Linked DNA regions of Homo sapiens: regions 2 and 3 are each linked to region 1. Evidence: fine-mapped expression QTL. A gene starts in region 1. Each other region holds a variant in brackets. All regions are shown on one strand. Distances are between the middles of the regions.

Evidence for each region. PIP is the estimated chance that this variant, and not a neighbour inherited with it, causes the effect.
Region 2: its variant is the best candidate, but not a certain one, in a credible set for the expression of ZNF229 in fibroblasts (GTEx, PIP 0.84).
Region 3: its variant is the best candidate, but not a certain one, in a credible set for the expression of ZNF229 in pancreas (GTEx, PIP 0.83).

What each region holds. Positions count from the first base shown.
Region 1 is chr19:44,443,327-44,451,515 of GRCh38, reverse strand. It overlaps ZNF229 (zinc finger protein 229), which reads left to right and starts at 3,044. Exons shown (of 6, transcript NM_014518.4): 1 at 3,044-3,207; 2 at 3,916-4,003.
Region 2 is chr19:44,422,448-44,430,636 of GRCh38, reverse strand. It overlaps ZNF229 (zinc finger protein 229), which reads left to right. Exons shown (of 6, transcript NM_014518.4): 6 at 95-4,383. The coding sequence ends at 2,334. Among named protein-coding and RNA genes, the nearest start is that of ZNF229, 22 kb to the left of the region's middle. The variant G/C (reference allele first, on the strand shown) is at 4,981.
Region 3 is chr19:44,466,019-44,474,207 of GRCh38, reverse strand. It overlaps the pseudogene ZNF285BP. Among named protein-coding and RNA genes, the nearest start is that of ZNF229, 22 kb to the right of the region's middle. The variant G/A (reference allele first, on the strand shown) is at 3,340.

The sequences.
Region 1 (8,189 bases):
GGTTCATACCTAGGTGTGGAATTGCTGCATCATTTGGAGACTTCTATGATGTTTAACATGTTGAGGATCTTCCAGATTATTTTCCAATATGGCTGTAGATTTTGAAATTCCTACCAGCAGTGCCGGAATGTTACAGCTTCTTTACATGATCGTCAGCATTTTTTATTTTCTGTTTTTTTTTTGTGTGTGTGTGTGATTTAGTTTCACTCTTGTTGCCCAAGCTGGAGTGCGGTGGTGCGATCTCGGCTCACTGCAACCTCTGCCTCCCGAATAGCTGGGATTACGGATGCATGCTACCACACCCAGCTAATTTTTTGTATTTTTAGTAGAAAAGGGGCTTTACCATGTTAGCTAGACTGGTCTCGAACTCCAGACCTCAGGTGATCCGCCCACCTCAGCCTCCCAAAGTTCTGGGATGCAGGCGTGAGCCACTGTGCCCAGCCTATTTTCTGCTTTTCAATCCTGACCATTCTAGTGAGTGTGAAGTAGCACCATTGTTTTGACTTCCATTTCCCTAATGACTGAGGATGTGGAGAGTCATTTCATGTGTCTCTTGCCTATTTGTTTATTTTCGTTTAAGATATGTCTACGGAAATACCTTGCCTACTTAAAATTGGGTTATTTTTTCTTAACAATAACAAAACTGTTAGGGAGTCGGAAATTACAGCAGTTTCAAATTCAGTTGACACACGGTTTCTACAGTGTTTTGCAGTTTGTATGAGGTAGGATGAAGGCTGAATATTTACCTTGGGCCTTGGAATGGATTCATCTACCCACACTTTGTGCAGGTTGGCTCTTAGCTTCCAGGTCAAGACACCTTTTTAAAATAATTATTTTTATGTTTATTTTATTATTATTATTTTTTGAGATGGAGTCTTGCGCTGTCGCCCAGGCTAGAGTGCAGTGGTTTGATCTCGGCTCACTGCAAGCTCCTTCTCCCGGGTTCATACTATTCTCCTGCCTCAGCCTCCTGACTAGCTGTGACTACAGGCACCCCCCACCATGCCCGGCTAATTTTTTTTGTTTTCTTTTTTGTATTTTTAGTAGAGATGGGGTTTCACCGTGTTAGCCAGGATGGTCTCGATCTCCTGACCTCGTGATCTGCCTGCCTCGGCCTCCCAAAGTGCTCTGATTACAGGCATGAGCCACCGTGCCCGGCCAAGACACTTGATTGAATTGCTTAAGTGCTTCCCATGTGCCAGAGCCATGAAAGGTAAATAAAGAAAATAAAGAAAAAGAAGAGTCAATTATTTTGATGACTTAGAGATCTGACCATGGAGGCCATGTGAAAGGTGGTAACCAGCAATTTAAACCATGTGTTGCTGGATCCCAGAGTAATATAATTTATTGATTTCTCGGGGAAATGAGAATGTTCTGAGAGTGGTATTTAACATCCACTACACTCGCATGAAATTCTCCCAATCACAGACTGATCTGTTCATTGAATTATGATATAGAGTTCAAAAACACTCGATAGAGGAAATTATATTCAAGTTGTGTCTTAAATATGGAGTAAGATTTTAATAGTACAGGAAAGGATGGACTTACAGAGGGAAGAACAATAGCAGCAAATTCAGACATTTGTAAAACTGGAGGACACAGGATGGGAAGTAGGACTGTGTCTACCCAAGCAAAGAGGGGTGGGTTTGGAACCAAATATCTGAAGGGCTTGGATGCTTTGGAGTCAATTGGCAATTTTTTAGAATTTATCAAAACAATTCGATAATCTGTTTATAAGAGAGAGTTCTAGAACTTCTAGGATGAAATTTTTGAAACACAACAAGGAGGGAGAGATAAGGAAATGAGTTATCACTGTAACTGAAACCTTTCATCATGGCACAGAAAAAGCAATCTCTATCTTCAGAACACACTTGTATCCCAGAAAATATTTCATTATATATATAGTAATGTAGTAAGTGATTAGGATGCCGTTTAAATCAGAAAGGAAAGAATTAATATTTATGTAAATTTTGTTAAGAAAAGTAGACAATCCTTTGGTGAAACAGGAAACTCCATCTTCCTTTCATATCATACACTTAAATGAATCACGCGGTGATTCAAAAGAAAAATGAAAGAGCCTGAAATGAATATAGATATGCACTTATTGGGAATCAGGCTAAGGAATGTCTTTTTGGTCATACTGGAGAAAAAAAAGAAGCCACAAATGAAAAGACTGATATACCTTGTCAGATGAAGTTTTTTGTTTTTTTTTTTTTCTAAACTACTTTATAAATGTTGAAACTGGGGGAGCAATTCATCACTTAGAAGCGATATCATTCATACACAGAGAGTGTATGACAATAAAAGATGACAATGAAATGCAATCGGTAATAAGCATATTTACTCTGTCAAATTGGGAAAATAAGACAGGATATTTAGTCCATCAAATTGGGAAAATATTAAAGAAAGTGATTGTGTGTAGTTTTGATATCATAAAATTAGAAGTGTAAGTTCAATGCAGGACAAAGGGGTAACTTCCCTAAAAACTAAAGAATGCTAGGCAAGTATTGCAAATAATTTGTGTTTTTTTATTATCTCTATGTATCTCTACGTCTTTTGTGACATACAGAACTATCCACGATATATGACCTGTGGCAAGAAATGATTACAAAATATTATGATGCCATTTGGGAAATGGGATTCTTAAGAATTCATATTTACTCACATAAACCAGGGATTAAGTAAGAATTTTTTTTAAACCATTCTTTACATGTAATATGAACTACTTTTGAAATAAATATTTAGTTGGCTTTTACACCAGAAAATCAATAATGCTTTATATCCCTGGTGATGGGATGATGGGCTTGTTTGAGAATATAGTCAGGTTTGCTACAACGCGAATATGTTAGTACTGAGTAAAGACATTCTTTTCAACTCAGAAACACCTTGCATGCCGCCTCCCGCCGCCTCGCAGTGGGCGTGACTCGAGGTGGACGCGCATTTACGACACCATCGCCCCTAGGATCGGACTGCGCTGCGGAGGGTTCTGGGAAAGGTAGTCCCACACCTCGAGTCGACTACTTCCGTTTCCGGTGGGCGCGTCACCTTGATTGCTTCTTAGGCAGTGGTGAGGCGTCTTAGAGACGTGCATCTCCATGCGGTTGTACTGTCAGGCCATGGGAATTAGGATCGGCTCTATAGGACCAGTGTGAAGGGACAACGTGCGGCGGAGGGTCGAAGCCCACGGATTTCCATGAGCTCGGCCTGGTGAGGCAGGGGTGTAAGGAGGCGCACGTATCGAACATTCTGAGCGCCTGTGCGGGGTGGGCCCGGGTCGGCAGCCCTCGCAGTCCAGGCTTGGAAAAGCAGTTTGAGGCCAGCTCTGGCTTTGAGATGAGATCTGCAGTGCGGGAGACTCCACTGTGTCAGTTGCGGATCGATGACATGAATTTTCTCAGGGTAGCCGCCCACCCACTTGTGGAGTAATTTCAGAGTTTTCTGCGAAGTCATTTCTGTAAACAGGAAGTTGATTCCCTGTGTTCTAATTTTATCCTTTGAAATGTATTAAGCGCTGTGCAAGTCCTAGGAGTTGGTTTGCTGTATCGTTGCTGGCTCTGCTTTTTGTAGCCGCCTAAGCACACACAGGCAGAATTTCACTTGTAAGTGTCCCACAGCATGTGACAGTCAGCTCTGGATTAAAATCTTGAGATTTTGTCTTGATTCTCCTTGTCTCCTGAAAGGGGCAGTGAAAGTAGGCTTGTAGACGGTTTCTTTGGGCATCAGGAATGGCGTGTCCCTTGTACTCTGAGTCCTGTAGGAAGAGAGGTTCTTTTCCTCGGCTCCTGAAGCAAGTAGCGAGGGTAGATTACAGGAAGGGGTAGATTACATCCAGCTGGCACTGAGAGATTTCCCCCTGTGGCGTGGTGGGAATTGGGATTAAATCATGTTATCCTGCTGTTCATTTTTCTTTCACAGGCTTCCTTCTTGGAATTGTTCGTTTCTCGGAGATAATTGTATAAAAGAAGGAGAAATAACCCCACATCTCTTGACACTAGAGCTCCAGGTGAGTGAACTTTGGTTCTCTTTTGTGGCAATGCCAGGTCTCTTGGTGACCTCATTCTTCATCCCATTGATATCACAAATGTTCATTCAGACCCCTTAGCCACACCTGCCTTCCCCTAGAAATGGGGGAGGTTTGAGGAATTTCCCAGTGTCTTTATTTAGTGTATTCTCTTCTTGGCTCCTAGTAGTGTGTCACTGGGTCAGTAAAGGCTTACACTGTTTCAGCGCCATGCTGAAGAAACGCAGGGTAGAAATAATTAGAGTAACTGTGATGGTGTATATTAACTGAGTGCTTACTATATGCCAGGTATTATTTATCCATGGTGTCTAGGACAGTGCCAGGCTTGCCAATAAATATTTGAATAAATGAATGTATTTCTATTGAATTTTCTGAGCAAGTTTGTATGTTAGCTATTATCCCCATGTCACAGATGAGTTGCTAAGGTTTAAAAAGTTAAAAAAACTTAACAGGTAAGACCTGGCCAGGAGACCTTCTAAACAGAAACCAGGTCTTTGCGCTTATGCTTCCTTCTGGACTTGTCTCATCCCAGCTTTTTTCACAGCTGATTTATTTGTCAGGCAGCTCTTAGAGACTGTCCCTGACCACCTGATTTAATGTTGCTCTTTCCACAGCTGCCACATATGTTCACCTGATAGCACCTACATTCTTGTTGGAAAACAGGAATCTATCATGTTTGCTTTATTTTCTTCATAGCCCTTTTTGCAACCAAAGGTCACCTAATTTGTAGAGAGATTAACCCACCCGAAAGTAAGCACCATGAGAACAATTACCTTTTCCATCTTAATTTACTGCTGTATGTCTAGTGTTTATTCTCCTAAGATGTTGTTAGACACTGAATGTACATTTACTAAATGCATGAGTTCCTGTATTCCTAGGTTAATGCTGGGTTGGGTCAATGGTAATAGTATATTGATGATTTTCTGTGTACCACGTACTGGGCTTTGAAGTTTATTCACATAGGCATGTGTGTGTGAAAGAGAGAAAAACTTAAATTATTTTAGTTTTGCAAGTAAGGATTATCTTTATTTGACAGAAGTACAGACTCATTCAAAAGGTTAAGTCTCTCCTGTGGTGTTAATATAACTACAAAGTGGCTGAACCAGAATTCGAACCTAAACCTTTTGATAACTCCAGTTTTGAGAAACTAGAGCTGCAATTTTCAAAACCCTGCTTTCCCTTTTGCTATCTTATTATTTTATCATAACTTCATAATTTACCTGTTTTCCTCAGACTTCAACCTCAGAATCATATTTATTTCTCCTCCTCTTCATCCCTACATGGAATTATTCTTTTAGTTTTGTTATTTCTACCTCTGCAATTATCTCTTATTCCCATTACTTCTTTGTCCCACTGCCTTTGTACCAACTCTTTCTGTCACCCTCTTTCTCCCCCAATGTGAGCTCCATGCAGTCCAGAAATGTATCCTAAGCACATGGAACACAGTAGATATTCATTATGGCTGCTGATTTCCACCTAGAATGTTAGCAGCTGCATGAGCACAGAGTCGTTGTCTGCCCTGTTCACTCTTGGGTCCCAACACAGCCAGCATAGTCCTTAGCACCCAAATTACTAAGTCCATGAACTGGAGAAGAAAATCACTTCTGCTGTGAAGATGACATCAAGAGGACCCAAGGATCCATATCAGCAAGCTGAGTTCAGGTTACTCCCGTTCTCCCATTTAAATATTTATTGAGCACCTGCTGTGTGCCAGGTGCCAACTGAAATACTGGCCCTCATAGAGTTCACATTCTTGTGGGTGGAGAAAGATGGTCAACAAGAAAAATAGACTGTAGGTAGGGTGTCAGTTTCATGGAGAAAAATGAAGCAGAGGAGGGTGTAGGAAGTGCTGGTTTGCCAATTTGAGAAGGATAATGAGGGATGAATTTCACTGAGAAAATGGTGCTTGAATAGGGACCCAAAGCAGGTGAGGGGCCTGCAGGCATCTGATGAAAAAGGCAAAGAGAACAACACGAAGGCCCGGTGATGAGGGCATGTGAAGAACAGCAAGGAAGCCAGAGCTGAGCAGAATGAGAAAGAGGGAGGATAAGTGGGAAACTGAATATTGGGAAGGAAGATAGTGTAAGGTCTTTGGGCCATTGAAAGGACCTTGGTGCAAGGTTTTGAGTAAAATGATGGTTTTGGCCAGAGAAGAATATGAGTTTATATTTTTAAAAGATCACTCCAGCTGCTGTGTAGGAAGTAGACTGAAACGAACAGGAGTAGGAATGCAGAGGCCATTTAGGGGGCTGTCACGTTAATGCAGGTGAGACATGATGGTGTGGACGGTGGCAGCAAGAATAATCTGATTCTGGTTCTGATTTGTAGGTATTTGCTGATGGATTGGATGTAGAGTACGAGGAAGAAATCAAGGATGACTAGAATATTTCCTCTTCATTTCAAAGGAGAGAAGTACCTCTAGGGGCAAATCTGGACTTTTCTTTTGAACATGTTTTTTGAGTTGCTTTTTAGACATAAGAGTGGAGATGGCAGGTTGCCATGGAGTCATCAGTGTGTAGATTGTGTTGAAGGCCTGAGGCTGGATATGTTCACCAAGGGAGTGAAAGAAGATAGAGAACTTTATGTGCTGACTCTTGAGGCTTCCTGACCTGAAGAGTTCAGGGATAGGAGGAGGAAGCACAAGGAAAATTTTTACCCACCGGAAGTCTCTGGAAACCCTGAAAATCAGCCAGTCAGAGGAAGTGAGGGTAACTTAGCAAGTTTGCTTCAGGTGTGGCCCCTGGACTCACTTTGTCAGCATCCCCTGGAAACGTTTAAAACACAGACTCCTGGGCTCTACTGCAGAGATACAGAATTAGAATCTTTGGAGCTGGACTCTAGCAGTCTGTTTTCATCATTGCTCATGGTGATTTTTAAACATACTGAAGTTTGCAAAGCGCAGTCCTAGAGGATCCTGAAGTTTGAGTTTAAGTGGCATTGCGGTGGAGGCCTTGTTTCAGATCTGGCCTCTACTCTTCCCTTTGTCCTTTGTGTAGGAGGGTAGCGTGTTGCCTGGTTGTCCACACCTGGGTCAAAGGGCAATCCCCAGTTCAGGGCAGTGCATGAAGGGAGGGAGAGAGAAAGATGCTTGTCACTGTGGGCCATGCAGAGGGCTGGTACAGATGGTTAGAGGAAAGAAGGAGATTTGAGTTCCTGAAGCAGTAAAATCCAGTGAGTGTCCTAGAGTAGACAGCCCAAGTATGTGTATCTGTTTGTCTGAACTTGACCTTGAGACTTGAATTTCAAGAGGAAAGAGGCCAGGCAAGGTGGGGAAGGGTGGAAACTCATGTCCACTGTCTTTGCACTACCTCCCGAGTAGCTCTGAGCAGATTGTAAGAGTTTTGTTCAATCTGTGTGCATCACCTCCTGCTGATAGAATTGCTTAGGACCCTTAAGTGCTTCCCGTGTGCCAGAGCCATGAAAGGTAAATAAAGAAAAAGAAGACTCAATTATTTTGATGACTTAGAGATCTGACCATGGAGGCCGTGTGAAAGGTGGTAACCAGCAATTTATACCATGTGTTGCTGGATCCCAGAGTAATTAATTCAGTCTGGGGGGTGGGGCGGGGCAGAAGAGGCTTAATTTTGAAAAGGAATTCTTGCCCTGGGCTCCATGAGCATAACTCAGGAGTTCCATGAATTTGAATGGGAAAAAAATTATACTAGTCTAAGTCACAAGTAGCATTTCATTGTGAACATAGGTGCTAAGCCACAATATTATTAGCAGTACTTGTGACTTTGTCATCCATATACATCATAGATATTTTTATGTCATATTCTGGTTTGTGCAAATATTTCAGAGTATTGTTTATGCTCATTACTCTTTTGAAATTGTAGTTAAATTTATTGTTTATATTGAATGTATTAATAAAGTGGCACTATACTTGCACAGTGAGCCATGCAGAGTTTTAATAGTTTTGAAGGTTGTATTTCCATATAATTCTTTGCATTTCATTTTATGCATTTAAAACTTTATTCTCAGTAGGGATCTTTAGGTATCATCAGATTAGTGAAGGGGGGCCATGGCACAAAAAAAGTTAAAAACGCTGACTAAAGATGGCTCTAATCTATATCCTGATTTCTATAATCCCTAAGTATGGGGATTTATTGTATTTTATTTTTTGCAAGTCAAACAGTATTGCGTTAATAAAGCTTTTCCTCTCCAGGTG
Region 2 (8,189 bases), 21 kb after region 1:
TCTCTAGGCTATTATTAGTTCAAGTCTGAAAGTCTGATGTCCCTGAGCCAGTCTTTTACTAGTTCTCATCTCTGAATTGTCTTTAACCTCATAGGAGACAAGAATGGAAAGGATACGGAGTATATTCAAGATGAAGAATTAAGGTTCTTTTCACACAAAGAGCTCTCCTCATGCAAAATCTGGGAAGAGGTGGCAGGTGAATTACCTGGGAGCCAAGACTGTAGAGTAAATCTGCAAGGAAAAGACTTCCAGTTCTCAGAAGATGCTGCTCCCCATCAAGGGTGGGAAGGAGCATCTACGCCGTGTTTTCCAATTGAGAATTTCCTGGACAGTCTACAAGGGGATGGGCTTATCGGTCTAGAAAATCAACAGTTTCCAGCCTGGAGAGCTATAAGACCAATCCCCATTCAAGGATCTTGGGCAAAAGCGTTTGTGAACCAGTTAGGGGATGTTCAAGAAAGATGTAAAAATCTCGACACAGAAGACACAGTATATAAATGTAACTGGGATGATGACAGCTTTTGCTGGATATCTTGTCATGTTGATCACAGATTCCCTGAAATAGACAAGCCGTGTGGTTGCAATAAATGCAGAAAAGACTGCATTAAAAACTCTGTACTTCATCGCATTAACCCTGGAGAGAATGGCTTGAAAAGTAACGAATACAGAAATGGCTTCAGGGACGATGCAGACCTTCCCCCGCATCCAAGAGTACCTTTGAAAGAGAAACTCTGTCAATATGATGAGTTTAGTGAGGGCTTGAGGCACAGTGCCCATCTTAACAGACATCAAAGAGTTCCCACAGGAGAGAAATCTGTTAAGAGTCTTGAGCGTGGTCGGGGCGTCAGACAGAACACGCACATACGTAACCACCCCAGAGCCCCTGTGGGAGACATGCCCTATAGATGTGATGTCTGTGGAAAGGGGTTCAGGTATAAATCGGTTCTTCTTATTCATCAAGGGGTGCACACAGGAAGGAGACCCTATAAATGTGAGGAGTGTGGGAAGGCATTTGGTCGAAGTTCAAACCTGCTTGTCCATCAGAGGGTCCACACTGGAGAGAAACCATATAAATGCAGCGAGTGTGGGAAGGGCTTCAGTTACAGCTCAGTGCTTCAAGTCCATCAGAGGCTGCACACAGGGGAGAAGCCCTACACCTGCAGCGAGTGTGGCAAAGGCTTCTGTGCCAAGTCTGCACTGCACAAACACCAGCACATTCACCCTGGAGAAAAGCCCTACAGCTGTGGCGAGTGTGGAAAGGGATTCAGCTGCAGCTCCCACCTCAGCAGTCATCAGAAGACACACACCGGCGAGAGGCCCTACCAGTGTGACAAGTGTGGCAAAGGTTTCAGTCACAACTCGTACCTTCAAGCTCACCAGAGAGTTCACATGGGGCAGCATCTGTACAAATGTAACGTGTGTGGTAAGAGTTTCAGTTACAGCTCAGGGCTTCTCATGCATCAGAGACTGCACACAGGAGAGAAACCCTACAAATGCGAGTGCGGGAAGAGCTTTGGCCGGAGCTCCGACCTCCACATCCATCAGAGGGTCCACACAGGAGAGAAACCCTATAAATGCAGTGAGTGTGGGAAGGGCTTCCGGCGGAATTCAGACCTTCACAGCCACCAGAGGGTCCACACGGGAGAGAGGCCCTACGTGTGTGACGTGTGTGGGAAGGGTTTCATCTACAGCTCCGACCTCCTTATCCATCAGAGGGTCCACACTGGAGAGAAACCCTATAAATGTGCTGAGTGTGGCAAAGGCTTCAGTTACAGCTCAGGGCTTCTCATTCACCAGAGAGTCCACACAGGCGAGAAACCTTACAGATGCCAAGAGTGCGGAAAGGGCTTTAGGTGCACATCAAGCCTTCACAAACATCAGCGAGTCCACACGGGAAAAAAGCCCTATACGTGTGATCAGTGTGGCAAGGGATTCAGTTATGGCTCTAATCTTCGCACCCACCAGAGGTTGCACACAGGAGAGAAACCCTACACTTGTTGTGAATGTGGGAAGGGTTTCAGATATGGCTCAGGTCTCCTTAGTCATAAGAGAGTGCACACTGGCGAGAAGCCATACAGATGCCACGTGTGTGGGAAGGGCTATAGTCAGAGCTCACATCTTCAAGGTCATCAGAGGGTCCACACTGGTGAGAAACCCTATAAATGTGAGGAGTGTGGGAAGGGCTTTGGCCGCAACTCCTGTCTTCATGTTCATCAGAGAGTCCACACTGGAGAGAAGCCCTATACGTGTGGTGTGTGTGGGAAAGGCTTCAGTTATACCTCAGGTCTGCGGAACCACCAAAGAGTGCATTTAGGCGAGAACCCTTATAAGTAGATGTACATAGAGGATTCCATCTGGGACTCAGAGCTTTCTATCCATCTGAGAGCCAACACAGGAGAAAAACCATAGGAAAGTGACATGTAGGAGGGCTATAGGAGAAACTGATGATTTTACATTTTCTAGTCTGCATAGGAAGGGAACACCTGGATGTGTGATAAATAGGTTAGCACTTCAGTTACAAACTTCAGTCTTTAAGAGTCTGTTGTGCAGCGGAGTAGGCTTTAAAGAAACAGTGCAGCAGTGGTTTCAGTAATAATCCTCACTTCCATCAGAATCTGCCTGGGAGGGAGCTTTTACAATGTACAAGTGGTGAGAATGTTTCCAAGGTGCTAATTATGGACATAGATTCTTTGTGTGGGTTGATAGCTACCAATGGGACAGTGTAGAAACAAGTTTCCACCTTTCTAAAACCAGTTTGGTACATATCTTTTTAAAGATCGCTTTATAAAAACAAAAAGATAACATTAACATTTATTGAAACAAGTCACTCTGAGAAGACCAGGAACAAAGTTCTCTTGGCAGATCTGGGTGATGTGTGTGTCTCACATTTTTATCATGTTTTTATGACTGTTTTATCTTGCAGGTAAGCTTTACAGCTTTCAGAGGAGTTGTAGTACACTACAGAAATATGTCTTCTTTCCAGGTTCAAAAAGCAAAATCTGATTGGCATTGCATTGAATTATTAATTAAATAAATTTATTAATTGGCATTGCATTGAATTTATAGGTTAATTTTGAAAGAATGTGGCGTCTTTGAAATGCTGATTTTTTTTCACTTTAAAAAAATGACTTTTTTTTTACCACTGATAGTATTTCATATGGTCCCTCAGTAATATTTCTTAGAGATGGTTAAAAATAGGTTCTGAGTCATCTTAAGCATATTTCTAGGAATTTGTTTTATTGCTGTCATGAATATAATGGTTTTGCTCCAGTTCATTTCATAGTTTAACATATCAAATATTAGGTATCTTAAAAATCACAAATGCTATTTCACCCTGCAGGTTAGCAGTATTAAAATAGAATCATCAAATCCCCCATCAGTGGGGGCGGGGGGGGGGGTTGTAGAAACAGTCTGATATGGTTTGGCTCTTGTCCCCACCCAAATCTCATCTCAATTTTAATCCCCACGTGTCAGAGGAGGGCCTTGGTGGGAGATGATTGGATCACGAGGGCAGATTTCTCCCTTGCTGTTCTCATGATAGTGAGTTCTCATGAGAGCTGATGGTTTTAAGGTGTAGCCCTTCCTCGCTGTCTCTCTCCTGTCCCCTTGTGAAGAAGGTCCTTATTTCTCTTTTGCGTTCTGCCATGACTAAGTTTTCGGAGGCCTCCCCAGCCATGTGGAACTGTGTGTGAGTTAAACCTCTTTCCTTTGCAAATTACCTAGTCTCAGGTAGTTCTTTATAGCAGTGCAAAAATGGACGTAATAAGTCTTATGTACTTATTGGTGAGAGAGAAAATCCGTGCATTGTTTTCAAAAGAATTCATTAACGTATCAATTCAATTTCTATAACCTTTGAAGTGGCAGTAAATATGTAGTAATTGATACTTGGGAGATAGTTGCCCACTTGGGCAAAAACGCATGCAGAAGGTGGAGTTTTTAAATTTAAAACATTTTTAAAATAGCAAATGTTAATATTCCAGTTTCCATTGGTAGGAAATTTTTTAGATAAGTTCAGGCATATGTATGCAATGGAAAGCCACTAGAAATCTTCAGGCACACAGATAATGACAATGCAGGTTGCTCATGAAGTATTTAGTGAACCAGGAGAGTTTTAGAACAACAATTATAGCATGACCCCATTTTGTTAGTATGTTTTTCTGTGTGTATGTTTAGAGCAACAGAGAAAAAAAGATGTGGGAGAGGACATATAACTACTTATCTCTAGTGGTGGGATTCTGAATGTATAATACATATGTTGTACTTTTATGTATTTTACTTTGTAACAAAGTATCTTTCAGTTTTATAATAACAGTAGAGCTATTTTTTATAAATTAGCCTGATGGAACAATCCCTTATGATTAAAGATTCATGTTGTAACCTCTATAACTTTTTTGGCTTTTTCTCCTGTTCACCCAACTCCCTGTACCAAAGATAAGGCATACAAATGAGTGATGTAAATATTCTCAGAGGCTACATCATTTTTGCTGGCTGGTAGGAGATGAGGCAGTCTAGATAATTAGGAGCCACGGTGTTTCCATTTTTCAGTCCTGCCTTCTTGAACTAGTGAGCCCACAAGCCTGGTTTTGTAGAGGGCAGCACACCATCATGTGTTCCTCCAGGATAAGCTCTCTGTCTTGGTGACTCAGGAGACCTGGGTCTGCTCTGGTCTGAGCCTTCTGCTGCCTGGAGCTGCCAAAGAGAGAAGACATGTCAAGAGGTGGGGAACAGGCACTTTATATATAGATAACCAAAGTATTTACCGTGGGAAATAAGGTTTCAGAAGGGGGCAAGGGGTAGGGATGAAAAGTAATTTATGGAACTGCAGCAGAGTCACTTGGGATGTAGGGTTTTATGGCCAACAGAACAAATGCAGACACCCCTCAGACCTCAAAGTTTGTGGCTGAAAAGTTTAACTCATTCTGTATTCCCAGAGGTTGTCAGCAGACTCCTCAAATTCTGGGCAGTATCTCCCCCAGTGTT[G/C]TGGAGGCAGCTGTCAAATGTTGGCAGGGGCTGCAGTCATCTGAATGCTGGACTGGGGCCTACAAGGTCTGCTCCCAAGATCACTTCAGGCAGGAGCCTTCAGTTCCTTGCTGGCTGTTAATAGAGGTCTCAGTTTCTCACCTTGTGGGCCTCCCAGGGCTAAAGGCCTTCATCTTGTAGCAACTGACATCCCCCCGAGTAAGTAATCAGAAAGGAGAGAGCAAGCCAGAAGCCAGGGTGCCTTTTATGACCCAGTCTCTTAAGTCACCATCACTTCTGCTATATTCATGAGTACTAAGTCTAGGCTACACTTAAGGGGAGGGGTCACATCTTAAAACCACACCACCTATGTAATCATGGGAGACTAATGTGGATAGGATGGACATGCCAACAGTGAGTCTGCCTTGTGCACTTGTGTTGTCTCTTTTCTACTTTGGGGTCTGCAGTCCTTGAGGTCTCACGGGGTTGCCTAAAGTTTACTCAGGTGCCACCCAGCTGCTAGGATTTCAGTGGCAGTAAGGTATACAGACAGTTAAGGAGAGAAAGCTGCAACTGTTGTGCAATGGGTTACTGTAGGGGTAGGAATTCAGTGCCTTCTATGAGATAAAATGAGGTGTTACTCTCTGGTGTCATTTTTTTTAATGCTATATGGTAGAAAGGTTAATACAAGTTTAAGGGGATTTGCAGAGTTGTAAAAGCAGCCCGTCTGTGGGGACAACATTGGAAATAAAATCTGGTAGTACATAGAGACAGATATTAAGCAAGTTGTCTCTAACTGGAGTGGGTTGGTAGGGGAGATGGGTCTGGTCAGAATATAAGGTTCATGCTGATAGTAACATTGTGTCCTACCAAGAAGTTGATGTGGCCGTTTGGTAAGGTGGGTTCAGATACAAAGGATACCAATATCCCAGAAGCATTTGTGGATCTAAACAAGTTGCAACTATACTTCAGGACAGTCGTCAGCCTGAATGCACATATCTCAAGTATAATAAGGGCTTTGTGAAGTAACACTATGCCTTTAAGATGACTTGAGCAATCTCTTGCATCCAGATGTGTTGCTAAGAATACCGAAAACACCTAAGCCTGTTGCACTGAACCCCAGAGTCACAGTGTAACATGGGATTGTGCAATTTGGCCCTCAGGAGTGACTGTATATCACATTCAGCCTCTCGAATGGCTACTACTGACATTTGGCCAGTCAATAGATACTATGTCAGACCCTATTTTAACCACTAAGAGTGCAACCATTAAGAGTCATCTCTCTGCATAATCTGGGCATGGGCCCTTGCATGAAGCTATCATAGGCAGGCAGCAAGCAGAGCAGAAAGGCAGATCATGAAGTCGTACTGACCTGGGTTTAAGTCTGAGATCCACCATTCCTTTCTTCATCTCTAAAACAGAATCACACACTCTGCCTCACATAGAAATGTAATGTATTCACACAATACATTTTCACTCTTTTTCCTTTTACCAGCGGGGGAGGTATGTTTGCTTTCTGATGCCTGAGGTGGTATTTCACAAGAGAAAACAACCAACCTGAAACATGGTCTTGTCCTTCCTATCTCGGGAAAGGGCTGAGGCTTGAGAATGAAGAGTTGTAGGAGGAGAAAGAGGCCATGAGGAGGAGTTGGTGCTGTCTGGAGCTCTAGACCATCTACCTGATAGGAAGGTGCCCAGCCTTCCTATCAACACCTTAACATCACAATTAAAAGAACTAGAGAAGCAACAGCAAACAAATTCAAAAGCTAGCAGAAGGCAAGAAATAACTAAGATCAGAGCAGAACTGAAGGAGATAGAGACATGAAATATTCTTCAAAAAAATCAATGAATCCAGGACCTGGTTTTTTGAAAAGATTAACAAAATTACATGGACAACTAGCTACACTAATGAAGAAGAAAAGAGAGAAGAATCAAATAGACACAACGAAAAATTATAAACAGGATATCACCACTGATCCCACAGAAATACAAATTACCATCAGAGAATACTATAAATACCTCTACACAAATAAATAGAAAATCTAGAAGAAATGGAAAAATTCCTGGACACATAAATCCTCCCAAGACTAAATCAGGAAGAAGTCGAATCCCTGAGTAGACCAATAACAATTTCTGAAATTAAGGCAGTAATTAATAGTCTCCCACCAAAATAGCCCAGGACCAGATGGATTTACAGCCAAATTCTACCGAATTCTACAAAGAGGAGCTGGTACCATTCCTTCTGAAACTATTATAAACAATAGAAAAAGAGGGATTCCTCCATAACCCATGTTATGAGGCCAGCATCACCCTCAAACCAAAACCTGGCAGAGATACAACAAAAAAAGAAAATTTCAGGCCAATATCCCTGATGAACATCAATGCGGAAATCCTCCATAAAATACTGGCAAACCAAATTCAGCAGCACATCAAAAAGCTTATCAACCACAATCAAGTCAGCTTCATCCCTGGGATGCAAGGCTGGTTCAACATACGCAAATCAATAATCATAATCCATAACATAAACAGAACCAATGACAAAAACCACATGATTATCTCAATAAAGAAAGGCCTTAGATAAAATTGAATATCCCTTCATGCTAAAAAAAATCTCAATAAACTAGGTATTGATGGAACATATCTGAAAATAGTGAGATATTTATGACAAACCCATAGGCAATATCATATGAAATGGGCAAAATCTGGAAGCATTCCCTTTGAAAACCAGCACAAGACAAGGATGTTCTCTCTCACCACTCCTATTCAACATAGTATTGGAAGTTCTGGCTGGGGCAATCAGGCAAGAGAAAGAAATAAAGCATATTCAAATAGGAAGAGAGGAAGTCTAATTGTTTCTGTTTGCATATGACATAATTGTATATGTAGGAAACCCCATCATCTCAGCCCAAAAACTCCTTAAGCTGATAAGCAACTTCAGCAAAGTCTCAGGATACAAAATCAACATGCAAAATTCACAAGCATTCCTATCCACCAACAATAGACAAACAGCCAAATCATGAGTGAACTCCCATTCACAATTGCTAGAAAGAGAATAAAATACCTAGGAATACAACTTACAAGGGATGTGAAGGACTTCTTCAAGGAGAACTACAAACAACTGCCCAAGGAAATAAGAGAGGACACAAACAAATGGAAAAACACTCCATGCTCATGGATAGGAAGAATCAATATCAAGAGAATGGCCACCATACTGCCCACAGTAATTTATA
Region 3 (8,189 bases), 23 kb before region 1:
GGCCCCATGTCTCCCAACTCTTTACTCCAGGCCCTCAGGTACTCTCCTGTGTCTCCCAGATTCTCTCAATCCCCAGCTTACTGCAACATTCAGCTTCCCAAACCCAAGTATCACCTATAGACAAAAATCTCAGGGCCCTCTTCTATCACGTCTCCCATCTCTTCACCTGCAACCCTCAGGGACTCTCCTGTGTCTCCCAGCTCCTCTCCAACCATCCCCAGATTTCTCCTTGGGTCAGCCCTGAACACACAGGAGTCACCCAGAAACTCATAGACCTCACTGTGCTCCTCCCTTATCTCTGTCACCTCTATACCACCATTCCTTAGGGCCTCATCTGTGTCTCCCAGCTATTCTCCAAGCATCCTCAGTTTTCTGCAAGAGTCACCCCTCAGCATTCAGGAGAACCCTAGAAATTCACAGAGCTCACCAGATTATTCCCCAACTACCTCCACCTACACAGCAATGGCTCCCACATACTCCCTGGGGGCCCCACACCTATCTTCCTTTACACTCAGAGACTCCCAGGGCCTCACAGTCACTCCCCATTATCATCATTCAGCTGTAAGTCCTTGCAAATCTCCTGGCCAACGTGATGCATTTACCTGCCCATTTCTCCACATTCCTGCTCAGGGTCCCACACCTAGCCGCAGAAGAGCCCCTTCCGCATTCCAGCCTCAAATACAGGCTTGTCCTTCTACTTCATACTGCCACACACTTGCCGGCAGAAGAGGCGCGTCTAATGGCCGACATCACCACCCAGGCAATCATCACCCCTCAGCTGTGCAGCGGGACCCTCCTGCCTGCCGATGTGGCTGCCGGCGCCTGTGCCAGCGCGAACCCCCAGCCTGTCATGCTGACCTCATCGATGGCAGCGTCCCTGTCTTTTGCTCCCCCAGCCCTCCCAAAGGCTGAGTTAGCCTCTATCATCTGGAATACAGTGTGGCTTCTGTTTTCCTAATTGAACCCTGACTTACTACCTTTATAATGTTTCTCTCTGCTTATGTAGTCTTTGATGAGTCAGAAGGTCCTTGCCACGCTCACAATGTGTGTACTGTGTCTCATCTATATGCACTCTCTGATGGGCAAGGAGGTATGAATTACGACTGAAGCCCTTACCACATGCCTTACACTTATAGGGCCTCTCTCCTGTGTGGACTCTGAGGTGAACACGAAGATCTGAATTCCGACTGAAGTCTTTACCACACTCATCACATTTATATGGTTTCTCTCTGGTGTGATCTCTTTGATGTAAGTGAAAATATGAACTGTAACTAAAGCACTTTCCACACACTTTGCATTTATATGGTTTTTCTCGAGTGTGAACTCAGATGAGTGTGAAGAACAGAGCTATACACAAAATCCTTTCCACACACATTGCATTTGTATGGTTTCTCCCCTGTGTGGACTCTCTGGTGAATGTGAAGGTGTGTACTTTGGCTGAAGCCCTTTCCACACTCATCACACCTATAAGGTTTCTCCCCTGTGTGAAACCTCCAGTGGACTTGAAGAACGGAGCTTGAACTAAAGCACTTGCCACACTCACTGCATTTGTAGGGCTTCTCTCCAGCGTGGACTCTCTGATGGACAAGAAGGTTGGAGCTCTGATCAAAGCCCTTCCCACACTCTTCACTTTTATAGGGCTTTTCCCTGTGTGTACTCCCTGATGAATACAAAGAAGTGACCTAAATCCAAACCCTTTCCCACATGCATCACATTTGTAGGGCATCTCCCTTGTGTGGACTCCATGATGGTTATAAAGGAAGGAGTTGCACCTGAAGCCCTTGCCACATTCTTTACATTTGTAGGGTTTGTTTCCTGAAGGGACTTTCTGATATCTGGGAAGGTCTGAGCTCTGTTTGCAGCCCATAGGCCATTCGTGGAATTCATAGGGAGTCTCGCCAGAGTGAGTTTTACAATGAACGATAAGATCTTGGCTCTGACTAAAGTTCTTTCCATACTGGTCACATTTATAAGATTTTTCTCCTAGGTGAGTGCTGTGATGGACATGAGGATCTGTATCATCTGCAAAGGGCACCCCACAGTTATTACATGTGAAAGGCTGTGGTAATACATGGACTGCATTATGTTGTTCAACTGTTGATTTCATACCAAAGTTTTTCCTGCAGTTGGGATGTCTACCAGGGTCCTCTCCTTTACATTCTTGGGACTCATGATGATCATGTGAGGTCCAGTTGAGGCTGTCATCATGCTGAGCACGTCTGTACAATTTCTCTTCCATGTAAATTCCCTTATATCTTCCCTGAGAGTTCTGGGGCTCGGTCATTATGTTGGCTTTCCTCCACGATTCTGGGGTAAGAACCTGTGTCAGGCTTTGCCATGCTGTGATATCCTGATTTTTGATAATGACATTTGCTACATAGTTTTCATTTTCAGAAATCTGAAGAGACTTGCCTGCTCACTCTTCACAGAGGGAAACATTTTTAAATGTGGGGAACACTCTTCTTGAAGGTTCATGATATAATCCTGACTCCCAGTTAAATCCTGGATCCTTTGTTTCGAAATCTGCCAGCAATGAAGCACTTCTTGTAAAAGGTAATTCAACCCCTTTTCCTGAAGATTCAAAATGTTGTTTTTAATCCCATCTCTTATGAGAAGAAAGAGAATGTGGCTAAGAGACCAAGTCAATCATCTGTCCAGAGGTTTTGAGAAAACGAAATATGATGGGGTGGGAAGTTGTCCCTGGCTTCTATTGACATATGAAACAATTAGAGCCACGGTAATTCTAACCTGTGAGCTGCCAATTGGAAATCAAGTGTTGTAGGGAAATTAAAAGAAATCTTGGCCAGGTGCAGTGGCTCATGCCTGTAATAGCAACACTTTGAGAGGCTGAGGTGGGAGGATCACTCAAGCCCAGGAGATCAAGACCAGGCTGGGCAATATGATGAGATCCCATCTCTACAAAAAAATTAAAAATTGGCTCAGTTTTGCCTATGATCCCAGCCACTTGGAAATCTGAGGTTGGAGGATTGCTTAATCCTGGGAGGCAGAGGTTGCAGTGAGCCAAGATTGTGCCACTGCATTCCAGCCTGGGTGACAGAGCAAGACCTTTCCACCCCTACTCTGCAAAAAAGAAAAAAAAGGAAATCTTAGGAAAAATTTATGAAGGAAGAAATTCACCTCCCTGCTATAAGAGTAGTCGATAAAAAGCCTTTAATAATCTTGCTACAAAAGGTATGGGAAAGGCTCCCATTTTATGTAGTGTGTGTGTGTATATAAATAATACATATTGATGGAGTGTTTTTTATATGTTGGGCAGAGTAAGGGACACAAAGGGTCACAAGAGGTTTCAGAAACAAGCAACAAGTCCTATCTCCTGAT[G/A]GCTTCCCTTCCTTCACATCACTGTCATATGGAGGACTATCATGTATGTTTGTGTACAACCTGCACAACTGTACATGGTGAGCCTAAAGGGGATGGGGATAAAAAGGCAATGGGGATTGAAATGGGGTAAACATTGTGAAATATGGTCCTGGCGTTGTGCGGGGATGCGTATGTAAACCTCTGAGACAAGCTTTAAGAGACATCCTTTTTATTTTCCCCAAGGTTCTTTGTCTTCATGAAAAGATAGAGACCACTCAGATCCTACAATCCATTTCCTTAAGTTCTGCCCTTTTAAGTTGTTGCAGAATCTCAAACAGCCATGACTATGAAAATGGGGAACAGATACTGTGGCACTGTCAATGGCCTGGCACCCAGGGAAGCAAGACTGTGGTATATAACAAACAGGGGGCTGAGGCAGAAGAGGACGATCATATTCTTGGGATCCTAAGATGGGTTTCAAAATGGCATGAATATCATGGTCAAGTCCCACTGGATACTGCTTCTGGTTCAAGGTCCTTTCTGGGTTGTTTTATTGAAAGTGACTTTAGTTTATAAGATAGTATCAGGGAAAGGGAGACCACGAGCTGCCCTGAATAGGGTTTAAGCAGTGGTTTCCCAATTGTTTTGATTGTAACCCACAGTAAAATCAGCATTGTGACTCAGTAGGAATAGGCACAAACATCAACACAGACTGCTCACTAAAACTTGCTCAGCTGATAGTTACATACTGTGTGCAATGTACTTTGATAAATTCTTTTGTTTTCTGTTCTATTAATCTATTTTGCTTTTTAAAAATTGCTAGTTATGACACAGTAATTTGATTTCAGGACTCACCAAGAGGGTTTTATCCTGCAGTTTGAGAAACAACTGCAGAGATATGCAGATTTATGCAAAAGGTCCTGTGTCTACAGTTTACGCTTTGGTTTCATGAGGTTATTTATTAAAATCACAGGACCTAGGACCAGATTAGGAGGGTTCAAATCCTAGTTCTTCTTATAAGCTGTGTGATTGTGGGCAAGTTATTAATTCTGTGACTCAGTTGTTTCATCCATTGATATGGCTTGGCTGTGTCCCTACCCAAATCTCTTCTCGAATTGTAACTCCCATAATTCCTATATGTTGTGTCTCATAATTCCCACATGTCAGAGCCCCCACACACAGTGCCTACCAGGGCACTGCCTAGTGGAGCTGTGAGAAGAGGGCCACTGTCCTTCAGACCCCAGAATGCTAGATCCACCGACAGCTTGCACCATGTGCCTGGAAAAGCCACAGACACTCAACAGCAGCCCATGAAAGCAGCCAGAAGGGAGGTTATACTCTGCAGAGCCACAGGGGCGGAGCCGCCCAAGACCATGGAAACCCAACATCAGCGTGATCAGGATGCAAGACATGGAGTCAAAGGAGATCATTTTTGAGCTTTAAGATTTGACTGCCCTGCTGGATTTCAGACTTGCATGGGGCCTGTAGCCCATTTGTTTTGGCCAATTTCTCCCATTTGGAACAGCTGTATTTACACAATGCCTGTACCTGCACTGTAGCTAGGAAGTAACTACCTTGCTTTTGATTTTACAGGTTCATAGGTGGAAGAGACTTGGCTTGTCTCAGTTGAGACACTGGACTGTGGACTTTTGAGTTAATGCTGAACTGAGTTAAAACTTTGGGGGACTGTTGGGAGGCATGATTGGTTTTGAAATGTGAGGGCATGAGATTTGGGAGGGTCTGGGGCGGATGATATGGTTTGGCTGTGTCTCCACCCAAATCTCATCTTGAATTGTAACTCCCACAATTCCCATGTGTCATGGGTGGAACCCAGTGGGAAGTGACTGAATTATGGGGGTGGGTCTTTCCTGTGTTGTTCTCATGACAGTGAATGAGTCTCATGAGATCTGATGGTTTTAGAAAGGGGAGTTTCCCTGCACAAGCTCTCTTCTCTTGTCTGCCACCATGTGAGACGTGCCTTTCACCTCCGCTATCATTGTGAGTCATCTCCAGCCACGTGGAACTGTAAGTCCGTTAAACCTTCATATTTTGTAAATTGCCCAGTCTTGGATATGTCTTTATCAGCAGTGTGAAAACAGAGTAATACATCCATAAAAGGGGGATAATAACATCAACTATCTGTATTAGTCTGTTCTCACGTTGCTAATAAAGACATACCTGAGATTGGGTAATTTATAAATGAAAGAGGCTTAATTGACTTACAGTTCCATATGGCTGGGGAGGCCTCACAATCATGGTGGAAGGCAAAGGAAGAGCAAAGGGACGTTTTACATGGTGGCAGGCAAAGAGAAATCTTGTGCAGAACACCCATTTATAAAACCATCAGATCTCATGAGACTTATTCACTATCATGAGAACAGCACGAGAAAGACCCCCCTCCATGATTCAGTTACCTCCTACCAGGCCCCTCCCACAACCTATGGGAATTATGGGAACTACAGTTCAAGATGAGACTTTGGTAGGGACACAGCCAAACCATATCACTATCTTATAAACTAAACTTAGGTAATACCTAACTGTACATGAAACTTTGAGAAATGAAAATGAGGTTGGATATTTATCAAAAAGTAATCAAATAAGCCAACACTTAGATTACACTTACTATATACCCATAAGTGTTGGCTGTTGTAACTTCCAACAAAATCAAAGTTCTCCCATGATTCCATTAACACTGGTTTATCCAGAACATTGGATAAACATTGACTTTTCTCCAGAAGCAACAAATAGATCAAGGTCCTTGGTGGTGTGTGAATTTTATCAGTCTCATTCTGAGAAATATGAGGAAAGAATGAGAGCCTAAATATGTGAGTAGGGGAGGAAGGGCTTACTTCCTGCAATGAATGCCCACAGGCCAGGGGTGGAAGATTTGGGGAGAGCTCCCTCACAAACCCATCACAAGGAGCCACATCCTCACAATGATCTGTAAAAGCTCATTAACTGCAGGGTCCTAACTTGTGCATGCAGCTCTTAGGATTTTTCTCTCCAGTGGTCAAAGTTTCTCTTTGTGGTCTAACTGGAATATTCTATCTGGCTTGAAATGATGATTTGAGGAAACAGGTCCAGTGGTCTGATGCTCAGTTACTCACTCACTGACATGAGGTTCCTGAAGTTTTCCAACATCACATCTTGGTACAGGTTTATCTGGGCTTTATCCAATAGTGCCAGCTCTTCCTTGGTGAGGACAACAGCCACGTCCTTGAATATCACCCTTTCCTAAAACATCAACCACATGCCACATCAATCATCCACACAAATGACTGGTCTTAGTCTGTTTGGGCTGCCTTAATAAAATACCATAGTCTGGGTTAGATTAAACAAACAAAAGAAACTTATTTCTCACAGTTCTGGAGATTGGAAAGTCTAAGATCAAGTACCACCAAGATAGGTTTCATTCAGGTTTCTTCTCTTGGCTTGTAGACAGCTGTCCTCTCACTGTGTCCTTACATGGCAGAGGGAGAATGAGAGCAAGCTCTGTTGAGTCTCTTTTCATAAGGATACTAATCCTATTGAATCAGGGATTCCCAAAGGACAATATTAATCAAATTATAAAATATGGCCCAGGACACAGGCGCAGATAAATCTATACTAAGGTGTTGTGCTGATACATAAGTCCAGTAGTGTTTCATGAGTTCATTTCCCATCACACACCAAGGTTTGGTATTTTCACTTTTTCATGGCAGATTAATCTATTTTTATCATGTTAAAGGAAAGTAAGAAGACAGGGTAACTTAAAGCATTGGCTCCTAGATTCAAAAAACAGAAAAGGGAAGAGGGAGATTATTAGGATAATTTAGAACATTTGGATATCAACTATTAAAAAATAATGGTATCAATGTGAAATTTCCTGAGTATGTTAGCAGTAATGTGGAAATGTAGGAAAATGCTCTTATTCTTAGGAGATATAAACTGACATATTTAGGGATGAATTATAATGATGTCTGCAATTTATCCCAACTGGGTCATCAAAATAAAATATAGATATGTGTGTGTATATACACATATTATGCATATGTTTGTGGTGATTGTTAACAATTGGTGAATCTAGGTGAAGATTACACATTATGCTATTCTTTCATTTTCTCGATAAATTGAAATTTCTTAAAATAAAAGGATGCGGGGAATAATCTGATATTAATAACCATCTCCTAATCAAGACACCAATTTTTACATAAAATATTTCTATCACTGCATATGTCACACTGCTCAGAGTCGAGTATTTACAGATATGTTCTCTCAATAGATTCTGCATCTCTAAATAAAGCAGAGCTTTCAAACGAAAGTTGTAAGCAGTTATAAAGGACTTCAAAAAGAATATGTTACTAACAATTGTCCAATTACCAAAATCTGACAATGATTAAAAACAAAATCTAGGGGAGTCAGCACAGTTGTCCTAATAGCACTGCTCTGTCAGTAACACTACTGTATCCTTCTTCTGTGGGAGGCAACAAAATTGAATTGGAATTAATCATTCAGGAAATACAGATACCCTGAAGCCTACTTGGGGTGGTAGGAATCCTAGGCAGGGAATGCCATAGGATGCAGGTACAAGGACAGCCCCCAAATATTAAGAAACCAAATTTATAAACCAATAAATACATGCAAAACATCTTTAAATCTTTTCCTTTGTGAAGTATTCTTGTAAAACCATCTATGAAATATTCTTGTAAAACCTTGAACCTGAATCTATTCAAGCATCTGGTGCTTCCACTTACAAAAAATACTGTGGATAGAGTAACACACTGAAAGACACCAAAAGGAAGCAAACAAATGCATTCCAAATGTAGGAAAGAACACAGGACACCAAACTTGGTTTCTACGACAAGTCAACAGCAGGAGAGAATAAAGTAGAT